Linked DNA regions of Homo sapiens. The protein of the gene in region 2 purifies or fractionates together with the protein of the main gene of each other region. This does not show direct contact. Each region holds a gene or a part of one and is shown on either strand. Other genes may lie near its edges. The genes, in order: GALNT2 and SLC25A4.

Region 1 (9,151 bases), on a different chromosome or scaffold from region 2:
AAACATGGAGGTGAGGGCAGCCGGAATAACAGGAGGCGCAGCCACCTGGACAGCACAGAGGTGAGCAGGTGCCTCCTCTGTTTCATAACCCACAGTGGCTCCTCTGCTCAACTGTGAGTTCTGGAAGGCAAGGGATTGCTTTGTTTGCCTTCTAATCCCTTTCTCTAGCAAAATAGTACTGCCAAGTAAAAAACCCTCCAACAATATTTATCAAAAGGACAGAGATCAATGATATGAAGTCATGTACACGAAACAGAGAGCAAAACAAGCTCTGCATCTGAGTAACAGAAAAAGAAGAAAGAAGCAGCACATGAGTCTAGGTGCATGTGCACAAGGAAGAGAGGGGGACTGAGCCCGGGAATCAGGAGAAGAGAGCTGTTGTGTGAGAACGTGATGAGCATATGTGCTATTGTGTGTGTGTGTGTGTGTGTGTGTGTGTCACACACGTGCACAGGCACTGGAAGCACACTCATATCTGTCGGCAAACCTGACCCATTGGCTCTTACCCAAACATAGCATCACATTTAGCTATTCTGAACCATCGAGACTGTTGACGCTGATACGGAGAATCCAGGATCAACTCTACCAAAACCACACGAGAAAATGAGGCTCTCTCTCATTTTCTAACTCATCAACGCCAAGTATCTTCTATTTAAGGGCTGGAGATTTAGGGGAACCAGGGCCAGGCCCTGGCTACCTGCCCCATGCCCATGCTGGATGGGGACTGGCCCAGTCAAGCCCCAGGCAGGCAGGTTCCTCTCTCTCTTCTAATTTAGGATGTCCAGGCCATTGCAAGTAACTGCTAAAACCACATCACCAAGTGAAGAAAGGAGTCAAGGTATTTGTGGATTGCAGTCTGCCTGGACACTCACTTGGGAGGAGGACCCAGCTTTACACAAAAGCACATGCCCCCTTTCAAAAATACTTCCAGTTAAAGAAAGTTAAGAAATCAATACATTCAGGATACACACACGGAGTTAACCTGCCTTTTTTAAAACTGCAGGCTCTCCCAGTGCCAGGCAAGTTTTCAGGAAGGGGGTAAGAGCACACAGGATTACCCTTTGGTGCATGAAGCTCACATTTCACCCAATTCCTATTATTATCTCATGGGAAAACTGTTTTTAGAATCCGAAGTCTCAGCTGGGCCCATCAAGCCTTCATTTTGTCTCTCCTTTGCAATGATGGGAGAAGAGAAGGTAGTGGGTTTTTCTGTTTGTTTGTTTGTTTGTTTTTTGAGACAGAGCTTTGCTCTTGTAGCCTGGGCTGGAATGCAATGGTGTGATCTCAGCTCACAGCAACCTCTGCCTCCCGGGTTCAGGCAATTCTCCTGCCTCAGCCTCTCGGGTAGCTGGGATTACAGGTGCCCGCCACCACGCTTGGCTAATTTTTTTTTTATTTTTAGCAGAGATGGGTTTCACCATGTCGGCCAGGCTGGTCTTGAACTCCTGACCTTAGGTGATCCACCCACCACAGCCTCCCAAAGTGTTGGGATTACAGGCGTGCGCCACGGCGCCTGGCGGTTGTGCATTTTTATGCCTCTCAGAAAAGGTGTGTATGTGTGCAATGGAAGCAATTAATACTGAGTATCTTCTATCTTAAGCTATTATCTAACAGGCAGGGGCTATAACTAGCAGCCGCCTTAGTGCCCACAGTTAAGAATCTGTTGTATAGGCATACCAGGCAGGAGGTGTAGACATCATATTCTGGGGCCAGACGCAGAGGCAGAATGGGTGCTTTGCGGTTGAGTGCACATGGCCGAGAGGACAGAGCTGGCAGGAAGACCAGGGCCCTGCAACCAGCAACTGTGACCAGTGCACCCTTGCCGCTGCAGCAGAGCCTGGTCCGAAGCTGATGACAGAGCTGATGCACCAAAGTGTGTGACATTCTATCTGGCCCTGGTGCTGGCTGCCAAAGAGGCTGTGGCCAGCAGGAGCCAGGTGCTTCCTCATAGACATCACCCATCCCAGGAGAAAGGTGGCAGCTGGGACTTCTAACATCAGGACCCCCCCAACTCCTGCTCTCTCTGGGCCTGCAGGTGACCTGGCTTCCCCATGCACATACCTGGTTTCCCCCAGCATTGTGACATTCATAAACTCCAACCACACCATCAGCAAAGTGTCCCAAAGTGTCGAGGCAGTTAGTTCCCTGCTGCAAGGCCCCAAAAGCTATATCCTGATGGTCTGGAACCCTGAAAAACAACGTGAGAATCACCTGCTTCACTGCACATGACCACCAGCTCCCGTCCACCAGCCCCTTTGCTCAGTGGCCTCATGACAGGTGACAGGAACGAGAGAAAGACCCAGTGACTAGGCATCGTGCCTCTTCCTACCACAGGTAGTGTGTGTCAGGGACACGGCATTTCTCCCAGGCTCTGGACTTCCAACACTTTAAGACTGTATGTTGCAGAAGTATTCTTTATATTCTATATCAGGTCATTTTTTTTTTTTTTTTTTTTTGGAAAGGAAGGAAAAGCTCCTGATACTCTTCAATGTTAGTCTTATTGGAAGTCATTTAGAAAATCAATGTGGTCAGATCCTGTTGCCTTGAACTTTCCAATACACTTAGGATCTGACCTTTATCCAGTAAAGACGGGAAAGGTGGGCAGACTTGTCAGGTGGTCTAATGTGAACAAAGCCACAGCCACGGGGAAGAACAACGTGCTTCAGAACCAGATCCAAACCTCAGCCCACCTCTGCCAGGTGCTGGCTTTCAGGCAAGACTCACTTTCTCTGAAGCTCGATTTGCCCTTTGGTAGGCTATGGGCTACCCAGATCTGCTGCAAGTGTTACATAGAACATTTCGTGTAAAGCACACGGCCCAGTGCCTGGCTCGTAGGAGGCACTCAGTAAACGGCGGTGATATTACAGACACAAAACACGAGGCTGATGTCTCCCTCACCCCCCACAGACAGGGGAAGCAGATTTGCCAGCCAGGATGGTGCTCAGTGCCTCAGATGTGGTCTTCAGTGGGTGCGGGGCCCAGTGTCACTACAAACCATGGGTGACCTCTGTGAGAAATGGCAGTCAACTGTGACTGAAAAAGCAAAGTGAGTGGCATGGTTGGGTTAAAATCCACTGAATTGAAGCCCCTCTTTGGCTGACGGAGAGTTGATGAGCAGCCGCCTTAGTGCCCACAGTCAAGAATCTGTTGTATAGGGACACCAGGCAGGAGGTGTAGACATCATATTCTGGGGCCAGACACAGAGGCAGAATGGGTTCTTTTGGGTTGAGTGCACATGGCCGAGAGGACAGAGCTGGCAGGAAGAAGACCAGGGCCCTGCAACCAGCAACTGTGACCAGTGCACCCTTGCCGCTGCAGGTGACCATCGCTGGTGACCATCTGGTGCTCTCAATCCCCAGCAAAAGCTGTCCTGCACGGCAGGGATCCGAGGGAGAAGGACGCTGTGTTCTCTCCTGTTCTCCTCCTAGGGGGCATGGGCCACCTGGCGCCTGGCATGTTACTTGAAAAGCAGAGGAAACGGTTCCAAAGAGCCAAGTGAGCGAACAGGAGCAACAGAGAGAGGCCGCATTACCTAACTGTCCAACAAATCTCCGTGACAAGGGCTCTGAAGGAGCTGTTAGCGGAAAGATAATGGTGGCAAGTCTTGCGTTCGCAGGCACTGTGCTGGAGATATGTGAGCCGCTGTAAAATGCTCTGGGAATATTTAGAATAAGGAATGTGCCGCATTAAGGCACGACCTGCCTGACAGTCCCTTTAAGAAGATGAAGTGCAGATGGCTCCTCCACCCCAGCGGATCTATAGGTCTTCTCACGAGGTTATCAGCAGGTCCCTCCAGATGGGGAGCTCGTATTCGCTTAAAACAAGAGGCTGGGTGTGGAAATAATGCTCAGAAAGGTGTTTCTGCCATGAATCCTCCGGAGGGACGTGGGGCAGCAGCATTATTACTTCCGTTTCACATGTGATTAACCTAGCTGGGAGGAGGGAGCCTCGTGGGGGCTGTTATCTGCTGGCCCACAGGAGCAGCAAGGGTGAGCGCAGCAGATCGGAGGCATGCAAAGGCGCCTGGCGGGGGGATCGAGGGCTGGCTGCAGACACTGCATGCTTGCGGAGGCTGGGGACTGCTCCTGGTCACTCGAAGAGCCTGTCAGACACCAGTCCTTCAGGTCACCCAGCCCATCACCTTGCCAATGGAGAACAAGCCAAAAACAAGGTGAGGCCCGGGGGACTGCCTCTGGGACTCCGAAGCATGGGAGGGCAGCTCTGCAGGACAGAGACAGCAGCAGGCCAACTTGGGAGCAGATTCTCAGCTCCACACCATGGAGTGAGACCACAGGCTCTCACTGGGGCCCAGGTGCCCAATCTCATGCCTGCAGCCCCACCTCCATTTCCCCTCTGCTGCTTCTATGGCCTTACTGGCTTCTAAGCCCTTACAAAGTGAAACCCCAGATCCCTGGGGACTTACCTTAACTCTGGATAGACATTTTCAAGGTACCATTTGAAAGGCTTGCAGCTGAGTTTCTTCCTAAGCTCCAATCTGCTCTGAATACTGGAGAAGAGGGAAATAAGATTCCTTTATAAATTTTAAGAATAGATGGGCTTTCTACATCAAACTTGAAAATCTGCTGAGGAGAACAGGGTTGGGGCAGGTGGTGTGGTGTGGACTGCCCATGCTCCTGTGCCCACAACCCCTTCCCGCCTTGGCACCTGGGTAGCTGAATTCAACGCTGGGGGCAGCCCCTTACCTCCCACCCCCACACCCCAAGAATCCCCAGTAATTGTGAGAAGGCAGAACTGCCACTTACTTTCCATAAGGAACGTTTCTAGCAGAAGGCACTGCTGCATAATAGAAATTTTTGTATTCATCCATCCAGACCTCTGCTGCCCGGCGGGTGTTTCTAGAAAGAAAATAAATCTTGAGGTGTGATTTCCTTTCTTTCTGTCTGCATCACTCCATTTGCACCTGTCTGCTGGCGTGTGACTGAGGCGGCTCCCTCTGGGTGTGCAGCAGCTCCAGCTGGGATCACGGCACACAGCAGAGGGTGGGCTGTCCCCACCAGCACCTCGAGCTGGACCTGTGGGGAGCCAGCCTCAGCGGGTGCTTACTGAACCATTGGAATGGCTTTCTTGTCACACAGATGGTCAAAGGGCAAAAGGCAAAGTGGAAATTACAGCACGAGCCAATATTTTAAAGGAGGGACTGGGGTCTATATCTTAAAGAAGGACAAAAGAAAGTTACTCTTTAAAAACTCTCACATTACGCGTCCACAGAGGGCCGGGGCCACAGAGCACAGCAAGGAGATTCCAGGCCCCACGGCCTTCTCCGTCACGGCTACGACACTATCAGACAGCTCTGCATTAAAGTTCAGACTACATAAGATAAGAGTTCCTGGGAAAATCACTTTCTTTTCTGCGGGGCTAAGCTGAAAGACTGCCATGTTTGCACTAGCTTTTTTTTTTTTTGATGGAGTCTCGCTCTGCTGCCAAGCTGGAGTGCAGTGGCGAGATCTCGGCTCACTGAAACCTCCGCCTCCCGGGTTCAAGCGATTCTCCTGCCTGAGCTTCCTGAGCAGCTGGGACTATAGGCATGTACCACCACACCCAGCTAAAATTTTTGTGTAATTTTAGTAGAGACGGTTTCACCACATTAGCCAGGATGGTCTCGATCTCTTGACCTTGTGATCCACTCGCCTCAGCTTCCCAAAGTGCTGGGATTACAGGCGTGAGCCACCGCGCCCAGCCGGCTTTTCTAGAAGGAAAGAAAACCATGTACTTAAATCTCATAGAGAGAACCATGATTTGCCATAAATAAAGCCCCTGGGACAAGCTACTCTTGAATGTCTGACATGCATTAAAAGCTATCATCTGCATAGGTATCAGCAGTGTATTCTGCCAAGAATTATCTTAAAGCATCCATGAAGTAGCAAGCACACAGCTAACCTCTTTGCTCCCATATTCTGGTCTCGGCTATAAGGTGGACTCCCACTTCAGGCTATAGCTAGCCCTCCTTAAGAACCCCATAGGAAGGCACTGTGTTCTTCCAAAATAAATACAGTAAGGAGGTAATGCTCGCCTTTTAAAATAATTCCTTAAAATGGCGAAACTTTCAACTGATCTGAGATACCATTATTAAAATAATTTCTGTATGGGGCCTATATCTTTCATATAAGGTGATATATATACTTTTTCATTTTAGTAAGTAGAATATGGACTATTATCCATAATGCCATTCAACACAGATAAGAACATATGAATGCACCTATTCTCTGACCCAGCAGCTCTACTTCTAGAAATTTATCTCAAGGCAGCAATCAATTAGGAATGAAATATACATGTGAAAATATGCTCACTTCTGCTTTGTTTATAATAGCAAAAAAAAAAAAAAAAAAGAGAAACTTTATGACTAAATATGAGGAAGGAATCAAATGAAATATTCTGTGACCACTAAAAACATGAGTGTGCATCTTACATGTTGACAGAAATGATGTCCTGGACTTGTGGGAAAATAAAATAGTTTGCAGAATTGCATATAGTGGATATGTGTGTAGAGGCAGAAGGAGAGCCAGTGAGCAAACAAGAGAGAGAGACAGAAATAGATACTGACAGACGAATTCATCAAATTATGAGAGTGTTATGGCACAACTGGTTTGGTGATGAGACTGATGAATTTTTACTTTCTCTCTATTAAAAAATATACAGATACAACAATGAGTACTTAAAGTGCTGGGGGATACTGGATCATACATATCATTTCTCAGAAGAGCCACTAAACATTGTTAGTGGGGTTTTGCTAAGTGACCTATGCCTTAACCTATGCCTAGTCAGTTTTTAACCAGTTATTAACTTAAATACTTGTAACATCTGGCACCTGGATTTCCCCAACAGGGACATGAAAGGATTTGATTCCAGAATGTCCTAGGTTCCTTTCAGCCTTAATGATTTAAAGGTTTTATCAACTCCAGTCATACTGTTTTCAAATCACTCAAGTTTTTAAGTGACTAAATCACTTAAAAATTCCTAAACGCAAAGCAACTCTTTTCTGTCTTTGTAATAGAAAAGGATAACTAGGCAGCCCCAAGGAATGATCTCCATGTGCTACTCAGTGCTAGCTCCTTTTATTCATTTATTTATTGGTTCACTCAGGTATTTATTTGGTATCTACACCAAACAGTCTCAGTGCTGCAGATACAGTGGCACCGAGGGAGACTCACTTTTGTCCAGGCCCTCCTTGTTTTTGCAGGTATTTGCAAGTATTTAGGTAGTATTAAATAAGTATTAAATAAATATTAAATGTCATCTATTACAAGTTGGGCATCCCTAATCCAAAATGTCCTAACATCCAAAACTTTTTGAGCACCAACATGAGATAGTGACGAAACTGCCTTTGCAAAAAATTTAACAATGACAAAATTGACAGTTTAAGGCATCTGACCTGACTGACTCCATCTAACTTCTAACGTCTAAACTGCCCTTGTTCACTCCTGGGCATAGGCAGAACTAACTTTGGGAGAAACTTAGTTTATAGTTTAACTTTAAAACAAAGATGGTAACAGCCCTTTCCCCAAACAAACCCTCTTTTTGTCTGGGTACCAGACTGCCTTTGTTGGACTAACAAATCAGCCACAGATTTGCAACTTCCCCAATTACTCCTGCAGATAACATCACCATTGCAGAACGTAAGATTGGCCTTTTGTAATGTCTTTTCAGGCTTCTGCACTTCTGATGACTCCATCCAGATCTCCAGCTTGTCCTGTGGACCCATCCATGCAGAAGCAGACTCGGCAGGCACAAGGACCATTTTCCACACCCCTATGATTGCACCTCATCCAATCAGCAGCACCCACTCCCTAGTCCCCAGCTCCCTCCAGATTATCCTTGAAAAACCCTAGCCTCTGAATTTTGGGGGAGATTGACTTAAGTAATAAAATTCCAGTCTCCCACTTAGCCAGCTCTGTGTGAACTAAACTCTTTCTCTATTGCAATTCCCATCTTGGTAAGTCAGCTCCATCTGGGCAGCGGGCAAGGTGAATCCAGTGGGCGGTCACAGTGACGCCTTTGCTTTCTGATGGTTTAATGTACACAAACTTTGTTTCATGCAGAAAATTATGAAAAGTATTGTATTAAATTAACTTCAGGCTATGTGTATAAGGTCTATATAAAACAAACAAATTTTGTACTTTGACTTAGGTCCCAGCCCCAAGATATCTCATTAGGTAGTACATATAAATATTCCATATCCTGAAAAAGTCAAAAATCCAAAATATTTCTTGTCTCAAGCATTTTGGATAAAAGATATTCAACCTGTATAGGAGATTAAGAGAAACTGCAGCTGGAAAGAGACCTCAGAAATACAGTGATATAATTCCACTTCTTTATCTTTCAGATGAGTCAACTGAGGTAAAGAGCAACCTGGCTGAAGGTCAACAGCAGGGCTTTTTAATCAGATCCATGCTGCCCCAAAATAATGAAACCCTGGATCAGCTTCTTTTCCAAATCTTGAGAATACAGGCTCCTGGGCTGTGAAATACAATTTGAAAATGTTTCTCTTCTAACAAAGAGTGCAATGTCTTGAGTACTTTAACATACTGTTTTCTGAAATCTCACTGTTTGCTGGTAGGTATCAATGGCTTTGGTGTGGGGCGTCTGATATGTCTATATAAAGAATCTCATGCTGCCCCAGGAAAAAGCACATATATCCATATTTTTGTTTGATTTTGTAAAGCTTATTGTACAAGATCACATTTTTGTTTTAATAAAGAACAAAAATGAAGTTTCAACATTTGTGAAGAAACATAGTTTTTGAGAGAAGATAATTTGGTCAGAAGCATTACTTGTTATTTTGCCTTCTATTAAAGTTTTCTCAGAAATCAGATTCCCTATGTGAAAAATCTGACTTCTGTATAATAGGTGTATTGTATAATCTGTACTTTTAAGAAGTTTAAAAATGGCCAGGCACGGTGGCTCACGTCTATAATCCCAGCACTTTGGGAGGCTGAGGCGGGTGGATCACTTGAGGTCAGGAGTTCAAGACCAGTTTGGCCAACATGGAGAAATGTACTACTAAAAATACAAAATCAGCTGGGTGTGGTGGCGCATGCCTGTAATCCCTGCTACTCAGGAGGCTGAGGCAGGGGAGTCGCTTGAATCCGGGAGGTGGAGGTTGTGGTGAGCTGAGATCACGCCATTGCACTCC
Region 2 (9,774 bases):
CTGTGAACTTGTAGATCAAGTTCACTGTAAATCTGTGAACTTGTGTTTTAATTACATTAGACATATTTTTTGATCTCATCATACAACACCAATACAAAAGCACCGCCCATGCCTCTCAGCACATTGGACCAGGCACCTTTGAAGAAGGCCTTGGCTCCTTCGTCTTTTGCAATCTTCCTCCAGCAGTCAACTGTCCCCGTGTACATAATATCGGCTGTGGAAACAAATGCTGGTGAGGGCTCCGTAACGCTGGAGGAAAGAGACTTTTCCCCTGAAACATATCTGTACACACTGTTACCAGTTTTATAAAATCAGGGTCATCTGGGCATGGAGTCCCAGCTCCATGCAACATCCCACTGGACATCTCCTTCCTTGCTTCACTGGCAGGCTGGGTCTCCTGTCATTCCTACTCCATTAGTTCAAGGTCAGTGAAGAACTGGGGCAATTAACCAAGTAATTCATGGACTGCCCAACTGCGAAACAAGAAGGGCGCAGTGGAGCAGGAGTATTATGCTACGCGGTTACCTTTTTTTATGGAGGACCGAACTGAGGCCGAGCCTCAGATGATCCTGCACGAGGTTATGCAGTCTAAATAAAAGGCTGTAACTATTCGTTGAAACATACGAAACTGCTAACATTGGACTGTTTTTGACTTTTAAAGTGGCAATTTCGTATGGTTCAACCTATAGAAGCCAAAACTTTCTCTGGCACAACAGATTGCTTCAGGCCATCTCTACCCAGCTAAACACCCCATCCCACTAACACCTGTAACTAGGAGGGAAGCAAGAGTTCTTTGTAAGAAGTAGCTAACTACTTCTTTTCCCTAGCTTTTGCACCCAGGCTCTAAGGGAAGAGGGCCTAGGGTCTCTATAATGCTGGATACCTAGTTAAATTCACATCTAAATGTCTTACTATTCATGTTCTTATCATCTCTAATAAAATGGAAAATACTTTTCCCTAATAGGATAGTTGAGAACGTTAGGGGGAATTAATACCATCTTTCTTCCCTAAGTCCTTATCAAATAATTTTGAAAATTAATTTCCAGTAAGGAAGACTGAAAGGAGCCCTGTAAAATGTTCTCCTCGGGCAAAACCAAACAAGTTTAGATGAGTAGAGCACAAGCTTACCCCCTTTCCGGCCGGACTGCATCATCATTCTACGACGAACAGTGTCAAAGGGGTAGGACACCAGCCCTGCGACTGCCGTCACACTCTGGGCAATCATCCAGCTCACAAAAATGTGCACGTTCTTGGGGTCAGGCAGCATCCCTGTGGACAGAGCCCAGAAGCCGAACGGCTATGAAGTGCCTGTTCTCAGCAGAAAGCAGGTGGAGGGAGAGAGGCCACTGCACCTCCAGCTCCATGCTCTGACCTTGCGGGGAACCTGCCCCTGTGCAGGTGCTTCACATATGACCAGGCAGACAGCAAAGGTGGCTGCTGCCCTCTCCGGACCCCGGAGGGGCAGTGCTCAGCTTGTATACAGGGCATTGGAAGTGGCTTCAAGTTAAACTCAGTAACTGCTATGGCTGTGTCTAGAGGGAGACAGGCTCCCCCCTCCTCCTCTCTGAATAACTAAAGGCCAGAGTTTATTTCAGTAGAGGACACAAGGAACGCTTCAGCTATTAACTTATGCACATCACCTCCTCATTCAGAAGCCTCAATTATCCCAGAGACTAGAAAAAACAAGATCAATATATATCAGGTCCTTTGTGAGTTATAGATCCCATAGGATCCTCTTTCCACACCACCCTCCTTCTCCCCGATGCCCCTCTCTCACCCTTGGCAGTATCATAGACTCCGAAGTAGGCAGCTCTATAGATAATGATGCCTTGGACAGAGACGTTGAAACCCTGGTAGAGCCCCCTCAGGCCATCAGACTTGAAGATCTTGATGATACAGTCGCCCAGACCATGGAACTCACGCTGGGCGGCGCCCTTGCCCACATCAGCAGCCAACCTGGTCCTAGCAAAGTCCAGCGGGTAGACAAAGCAAAGGGAGGTGGCCCCAGCGGCCCCACCGGACGCCAGGTTACCAGCAAAGTAGCGCCAGAACTGCTTATGCCGATCCACACCCCCTAAGAAGAGCTGCTTGTACTTGTCCTTGAAGGCGAAGTTGAGAGCTTGGGTGGGGAAGTAACGGATCACGTTGGCCAGGTTACCCCTCCAGAAGGAGAGGAAGCCCTGCTCCTTAGGGATTCTCACCACACAATCAATGATCCCTTTGTACTGCTTCTCAGCACTGATCTGTTTGCTGGCATGCTGGACCTGGTGGAGGGGAGGGTGGGTGACAGAGGACAGGCAGGGTAGAGAGAAGGGAAGAGGACAGGAGAAAAAAAAAGGTTTGCACTTCCTAGATTTTTTTTTTGAAGAAAAAAAGGATGAGGAAATCAAATGGATACTGAGGACGTGTAAATGGATACTGTTATCCATGTTAGTTACTGGATAACAAGCCAAAATAATCCAATGTTGCTTCAATTATTAGGGTATTTGAGGGAAAAGGTATTGCCCCAAATAAACTGAAAAGGTGATTGAATTATATAAAGCTATAGCCATTTATTTATTTCACTTTCCCTAGGTTTGAGAACTGTATGAGGGGCTTACTGGGGGACAGAAATGAGTAACACTCCCTGCTTCAAAGGGCTTTGGATTTAATAGACATGATGGCCAAAAAATGACAATTTCTCAGTGTCACTCTGATCACCCTGGAGATGAGGATCTCTACTAGATGCTCTAATAGAGGAAGGAGAATAAATCCACTAAACATTAGGCCTCCAAAGTTTTCAAGCAGATAATCCAAGTAATCAATTATTAAGGGTTTGCTGCCGTTGTGAGCAATTTGTGGGGGTTTTGTTGTTAGTAATTCTGACTCCCAAATTGGGCTCTTCCTCATTGAGGGGCCCTGACCTTTTGGGCAGGTGGAGGAAAACACGAGAGGATGATAAACCATTCAGCGACCAGGTAGGGGAGGAAAAGATTTGGAGACAGGATGATCTGAGTTTATTCCGAAAATTGTTTCTTAATATTTCAAAACCTCAGCTTCATCTGTAAAATGGAGAAGAATAACTCTCTCACAGAGGTTACATAAAGATGAAGGCGTCAGCCTACATACAGCATTGTGCATGAGATACGATAAGGGAATTCTTGGGTGATGATTATTTTGATGTTTTTATTGTAAAGGTGCGTGCGCATAAGACGGTGCCAAAAATACTGGCAATCACTAGGTGCCTCCGGGCCTGAGTGCACGCCCGTGCTGTCACGGGCGCAGGATCTGGCACACGTAAACCGGCTCCGGGTGGGTTTCCATATATAGACACCCGAACGCCGGGCGCCACCCGACACCAGGAATCTGCGACTGACGCTGGACCTGTCTCTACGCAGAGGGCACCTTCTTCCCCCGCGGGCGGGCGGGCGGGCGGGCGGGCGCCCGGGCCTGTGGCCTGGCGCAGATTTTCCGCGGCGCCCCGCGCCCTGCAGCTCGCGCCGCATCGCGCGCCCCGCCCGGCCCGCCGCGCCCGCGCCCGCCTCTTGCACCGCGCGGTCCTCACCTGCAGCAGCAGTTTGACCCTCTCGATGGGGGCGACCGCGGTCTTGGAGACGGCAGCGGCGACGCCCCCGGCCAGGAAGTCCTTTAGGAAGCTCCAAGCGTGATCACCCATGGTGACAGCTCGACGCTCTCAGCCCGCAGGCAGCCCGTTCGTGCTCTCGCCCACGCCCGGCCTGGCACCGCCGCGCAGTCCCCGACCCTGCGCGACGCTAGGGGGCCGCCGCCTGGCCCGCAGCTCCCCCTTATATCCCCGCCGGGCTCTCGCGAGAGGAGGCGGGTCGCGGCCGGCGCTCGCGCCGCGCATTGGCTGGGCAGGTGCGGGGCGCCCCCTCCTCCCAGCTGCAGAGGGCATCGGGGGCGAAGGCGCTTCCGGGAGCGAGGCTGGGCCGGGGGCTGTCCCTGCAACTTGGGACGTTTAAAGGGCACATTCATGTTATCTGTCCCGCCGAGCCCAGGGAACACCGTGTCACCGCGGCATGTGGGCCGCGTATTTATAGCACAGGCAGCCTTAGGCCGGGGCGAAGCCGGGGCAGACACCGGGCCGCTGCCGCCGGTGGAGAGTTCTTGACCCTCCGGCCTGCACGGGCCGCGCTCAGGCCCAGGGATTTCGAGCTGTTTCCTCCTTCTTGCATCTAAAGGCGCCCCCCACCAGAGCTCACTGCCTGGATATGGGCCTCTTTAGAGCCGTGCGCTCCCGAGAATAAATGGCAGTCCTCTCAAATAGATACTAAGGTCACCTGATGCTGTGATTGCCTCATAGAATCTGACAACCTGCTGCCTCTCATTTCTTTTCATTCAATCGTTCGTTCAGTCATTCATTCTGCTATTACATATTGATGTGTCTGGCACTCAGTGCCCACAGGAAAGACCTGGTGCAGGGGGCCACTAGGTGAATTCATACTTGTTTCTGCAAAACTCTGTGACTCTAAAACACAGGACACTTCTTTTGTAAGCCCCTAAAGGGTTCAATGTACCACTCTGCTCTCAGCGGAATTTCAGCACATATTAGGGCAGAATGTTCTGTCTGTCAGCCGGTGCCTTCTTGAGGGTCAGTGCTGTCAGCCTTCCGGAGATCCAGTCCTTGGCTGTATTTGCCTCTTTTTAATGACAGCTGGGGTTGAGGAAATGCTATTTAATCCCAGGAAATTAATTGCAATTAATTTCTTAAAATATATAAATCTGAGCTTTAATTTTCCTTAGCTTGTTTTTTAGGCAGTTCATGTAACCATACAGGTTTTCAAATACAACTGTTCCTTCCCCTAGAATGACTGCAATTCGTTTTTAACTTTAAACTCTTCACTCAATTATCTTCCCATGTTTGCTAATTTTCATTTGTACCTTTAACAAAGTTTATTCATTGTTTTATAAACTTTTTTTTTTTAATATTTGCTGACATCATGTTAGAGGTTTACGGAGCTGCAGCTGCGTGTCACCCTGGGCGTGGAGACTTTGGTATAGCAGAAGTCACTAAGGTTCCAGGGCCACAGAGGGCATGCGTTTATCTAAGAGTGGGGCAGGCTAGAGTTCCGAAATCCAGGTAAGCAGAATGAAAGCTAGAAACTAGTGGAAAGCTGCCAGAGGTCAGAGCAGACAGAAGTCAAGAACTCGGAAGAGACAAACAGATAAACCATGTATGTGTTCATTCAACAGACTCTTGCTGAGCATGTACTGTGTACCAAGAACTAGGTGTAGCCCTGTGGATTGAATATAAGTAGACGTGGCCCATCTCCAAAGACCTTACAGTTCAGTGTATTCGTCACTTGCTCCACTTTATCAAAACTTCACTTACTGATTTCCATGGATCAGCATAATCCACACAGTAAACCTTTTTAATTATAATAGTGTACTGTATCCCATCCTGTAATATAGAGCACTTGCTTTTATACCTCCATTTTCCTTTTAATTGTGCATTAGAATTGTGTCTTATTTTTATGATGAAAAATAGGCCGGGTGTGGTGGCTCATACCTTTGGGAGGCTGAGGCTGGCAGATTACCTAGGTCAGGAGTTCGAGACCAGCCTGGCCAACATGGCAAAACCCCATCTCTACTAAAAATACAAAAATTAGCCTGGCGTGATGGCTCATGCCTGGAATCCCAGCAGCTCAGGAGGCTCAGGCACGAGACCCCCGAGAGGCAGAGGTCATGGTGATCTGAGATCACTCCACTGCACTTCAGCCTGGGCAACAGAGAAAGACTCTGACTCAAAAAAAAAAAAAGAAAGAAAGAAAGAAAGAAAGGAAGGAAGGAAGGAAGGAAGGAAGGAAGGAAGGAAAACTAATACTGCTACATTGAAACTTACACAAACTTCATTTTCTCCTCTAAGTTTTTTCTTCTCATATATTTCCCAAATGGAATGGATAGATTTAAGATTTTTAAAGTTTTGTAGCTTTTGCTACATATTGACAAATTGCTCTTCAGAAATACCAACCCACCAGTTATATAGATGGGCTTTCTCTCACACTCTTCTCCAACACTGGCTTTAAAAAAATAGAGAGTTGGTTATTTGTGAGTTATTTATGAGTTTTAGTTTGTATTTACTTAATTACTATGAAGCTGTATATATTCCATATGATTCAATTTAATTTGACAGTTTGACAAGGTTTCCCTTTTGTATAAACTTTTAATCTTCCTTGACTACTGCTGGAGTGAAAGCAGAGTATTTATATTAACAACAATTCTTTATATATTTGGGACAATAAATATGTGTTGAATGTTTTTCATTTTGTTGTTTTCCTTTTGATATTTATTATATCATTCTATTAGTGTTATGAACAGATCTATGGTATGATGATGATCTATTTCATGTTCTGATGTAAATGTATCTCTTTTATAGATATAGCAGTCTATTTACTCTAGTACATATATCAGTTTTTTTCTTCTACTTTGAGTAGCTATTTTTAAAATGTCTAACACTACGTTTTATATTGTATGGAGGTATGGGTCTAATTTCACTTTTCTCCATATCATGCTTGGGTATCCCAATACTAATTCTTAAGTAGATATTTTCTTCTCTCCATTATTTGTCTTATATTACTAAGTCTAGTTTGTCATATATTAAGTTCTCATAATAGCTTTAATTTATGAAATATCCACACTATGACATATTTATTTGATCTTCATTTTTTAAAAATAGGCTGATATATGATTCTACAATCACTTAAAAAATAAAGTTTTATCTGCTTATGTGTCTGGATTTATTTTTACTATCAAGTTGTTCAATTGTTTAAACATCACCAGAAGATTTTAAATAGACATTTAAACTAAATTAAATATTAATTAATATATGAATTCAGGAAGTAGTATCATCTTTGTTACACTTAATTTTACCAATCAGAGTTTTGGATATTTTCTAAATGGGAGATATATTTCTCCTTGGCTACTCTCCAGTTATCCTGTTCTATAGAAGGAGTCATAGCTGGAATCCTTGACAAGAGGTTTTCCATGGAAACTCATACACTGTCCTCTGCTTCCACGGACTTTCTCAGAAAAGAGAGGCCTTACATGCCCTCGGGAGCATGAGCTGCCTGTGGTCACAAGATCCTGGTATCACTTACACAGGCAGGGGAGAGAATGGCGCTCGGCAGAACATGTGTCCACCCGCCCAACCCAGTACTTAGTGGCTTTCTTCCAGCAGGAGAATGGACAAGGCATCTAGGAGATGAGAAGAAACTCTACTTTCAATCGTGGATGGGATCTTAGATGCTGGTGGGAACAGGGCCATGTAGAAATGAGAGCAGGGTGGAAAGTTAGCCTTTTGGAATTTTAGTGGAAGCTCTTATAGACTTAGTCTCTTACCAAACTGGGAATAGAGAATGGAAGTTGCTAAAGAGTAAGAGTGACAAGGAATAAAGAAAAACAATAAAGGATGTGCTAATGGTGGTGATAACATAATGCCTGTGTGCAAGTGTACATTTAAAGTATTAGGAATTAGAACACACTACTAGTGTTTGTTCACATGGTAAGTTTCAGCATTAAGCGAAGAGGATCAAGATATTTATATGTGCATTTATTTATTTATTTATTTTAGAGACAGCATCTTGCTTTGTCACCCTGGCTGGAGCACGGTGGCACAATCACAGATCACTGAAACCATGCACTCCTAGGCACAAGGGATCCTCCTGCTTCAGCCTCCTGAGTAGCTGAGGCTACAGGCACATACCATCATGCCCGGATATATATATTTTTTAATTTGCAGGTTTTGCTGTGGTCTCCTGGTTTTGCTATGTTGCCCAGGCTATGTGGAGAAGCTTACATGCCAGGAACAGACATAGCTGTGGTGCCTACAGGCAATTCCAACGCAGCCTGGCAAGGACAAGGACCCAAGAGGGGGTTCTGGTTGTACTTCCAGCAGAGTGACTTTCAGTGTGTTGCCTCCACCGGAACTTGTACTTTTTACGTTTTATGAATGTTCGTGAAACAAAAAGTTTTGTTAGAAGGATTTGGCGCCTTATTATTTAAAGGAGGTGATTTGAGGGGGCAGAGGAGCCCTTGAATCATAGAAAAGACAGAGGGACTTCTCCTAGAAGGCACTCTGCTTCCGGGGGAAACTGATTCAGGTTGGCCTCTTGGTTGCTGGAGGCAGGGAGGCCTGGGGGACCCCCGTAGCACACCCCTGATAGACACAGGCGGACCCCGTGCACTTCCCAGACAGATTCAGAACCTTTCTTTTCCCACTTCCAATCTTAGCACCTCTCTTTACTTTGTTGAAGAGTCCAACAAGCACATTGAGTATCATACAACACAACGAAGCTAATGTTTATGCTTGCATAATAATGCCTTCCGACCATAACCACACACCTTCCAGGCTGGCATCTTCCAGTTTTGCCCACGGGCAACCTCTGTGAATAAAACCGTTACTCACCTGGAGCTGACTGGGTCCATTTTCTAAACACATTTTGAACTAGTGTTTTGTGTTTCACATATCCTATCAATCATTTTTAAAAACATGCTTTATTTCTATTATTAAAATCAGTAGGCAACAAATGTTATCAGAGACTATTTTTTATCATCTGTACTACTGAAGAACAATATTTTGCTATTTTAATGAATAAGGGTTTTCTTCCATATGCGTTCTTTTACCTCATGACCCTTTCCTCATAGTCAGCTAGACGTTCTGTGTCACTGCCACAGGAAAAAGAAAACATTCAGGAAGCAGAGGAAGTAAGAGTCTATTCTCGGCATTAGAATTTCCAAAGGAAGAGAAAAAACTCAAGCCCAGTGGACTTCGTAGAATACTTGAGGGAAAACAAAAAGCTTTCTGCACACAGCCGGGCACGGTGGCTCACGCCTGTAATCCCAGCATTTTGGGAGGCCGAGGCGGGCGGATCACCTGAGGTCAGGAGTTCGAGACCAGCCTGACCAACATGGAGCAACCCCGTCTCTACTAAAAATACAAAATTAGCCGGGCGTGGTGGCGCATGCCTGTAATCCCAGCTACTCGGGAGGCTGAGGCAGGAGAATCACTTGAACCCGGGAGGCGGAGGCTGTGGTGAGCGGAGATCACGCCACTGCACTCCAGCCTGGGCAACAAGAGCGAAAACTCCATCTCCATAAAAACAAAAAACTTCCTGCTCAGCTACTCTTACAAAGATTATATGAAGTTTTCCCAAACCTGGAGAGAAAGGAAGAAAGTTAGAGAGAAAGCAAAGAATGTGAGGCTCGTGTGGATCCCTGGGAAGGAGGGGCCTGTATTCTGCGCAGCCCAGGGAGGCACAGATGCAGGGGAAGAAACGGCCGGGCGGTGTTTCAGCACACAGGGCAGAGGCAGCCTTGCAGGGTTGATCCAAGTGCAATGAGGGAGACGGAGAACAGATCCCTGGTACCTGAGGGATTTGCTTGTGTCCATAGTCCGCAAAATGAAGGCAGCCTGCTGGAGTGAAGGTCCCTAGAGAGCCCCGTTCAGCTTTTCCTGCTCTTAATGTCTCCAATGTGGCGCAGGAGCAGCAGAATAACGTTTCCTTTTCAAGGCCACCACAGTCCGCTGACAGCAAGCCAGGCCTGAAGAGCCTCAGGGTTGGAAGAAAGGAAAGTGTGACCTTGAAAGAACACCCTTGATGGAGCACAGACTGAAGACCGGAAGCGAATGCGGGCCAGGCCGCGGGTGCCAGCACGGCCAGATGAAGACCCGGACCACGCGCCCCTCTCCTCGCCTTCTTAGTCATCCATGGGACAGCAGTGGAGAGAAACGGGGACCCGGATTATTTCCACCGCTTGACAGAATGGAGTCTGAAT

The links.
Region 1: the proteins of SLC25A4 (region 2) and GALNT2 fractionate together in Homo sapiens (co-fractionation; 2 studies listed by BioGRID). This does not show direct contact.

Annotation. Positions count from the first base shown.
Region 1 is NC_000001.11:230,258,278-230,267,428, reverse strand, and holds part of GALNT2 (polypeptide N-acetylgalactosaminyltransferase 2 precursor), read right to left. Parts: intron 8,773-9,151; exon of another isoform or gene 8,342-8,772; intron 7,952-8,341; exon of another isoform or gene 7,848-7,951; coding exon of another isoform or gene 7,666-7,847; intron 4,857-7,665; coding exon 4,764-4,856; intron 4,508-4,763; coding exon 4,424-4,507; intron 2,189-4,423; coding exon 2,062-2,188; intron 1-2,061. Other genes in the region: uncharacterized protein LOC124904542, read left to right, coding at 7,666-7,847. UniProt on the Homo sapiens protein: Catalyzes the initial reaction in O-linked oligosaccharide biosynthesis, the transfer of an N-acetyl-D-galactosamine residue to a serine or threonine residue on the protein receptor.
Region 2 is NC_000004.12:185,137,254-185,147,027, reverse strand, and holds the start of SLC25A4 (ADP/ATP translocase 1), read right to left. Parts: upstream 3,763-9,774; 5' UTR 3,656-3,762; coding exon 3,545-3,655; intron 2,265-3,544; coding exon 1,778-2,264; intron 1,270-1,777; coding exon 1,129-1,269; intron 215-1,128; coding exon 57-214; 3' UTR 1-56. UniProt on the Homo sapiens protein: ADP:ATP antiporter that mediates import of ADP into the mitochondrial matrix for ATP synthesis, and export of ATP out to fuel the cell.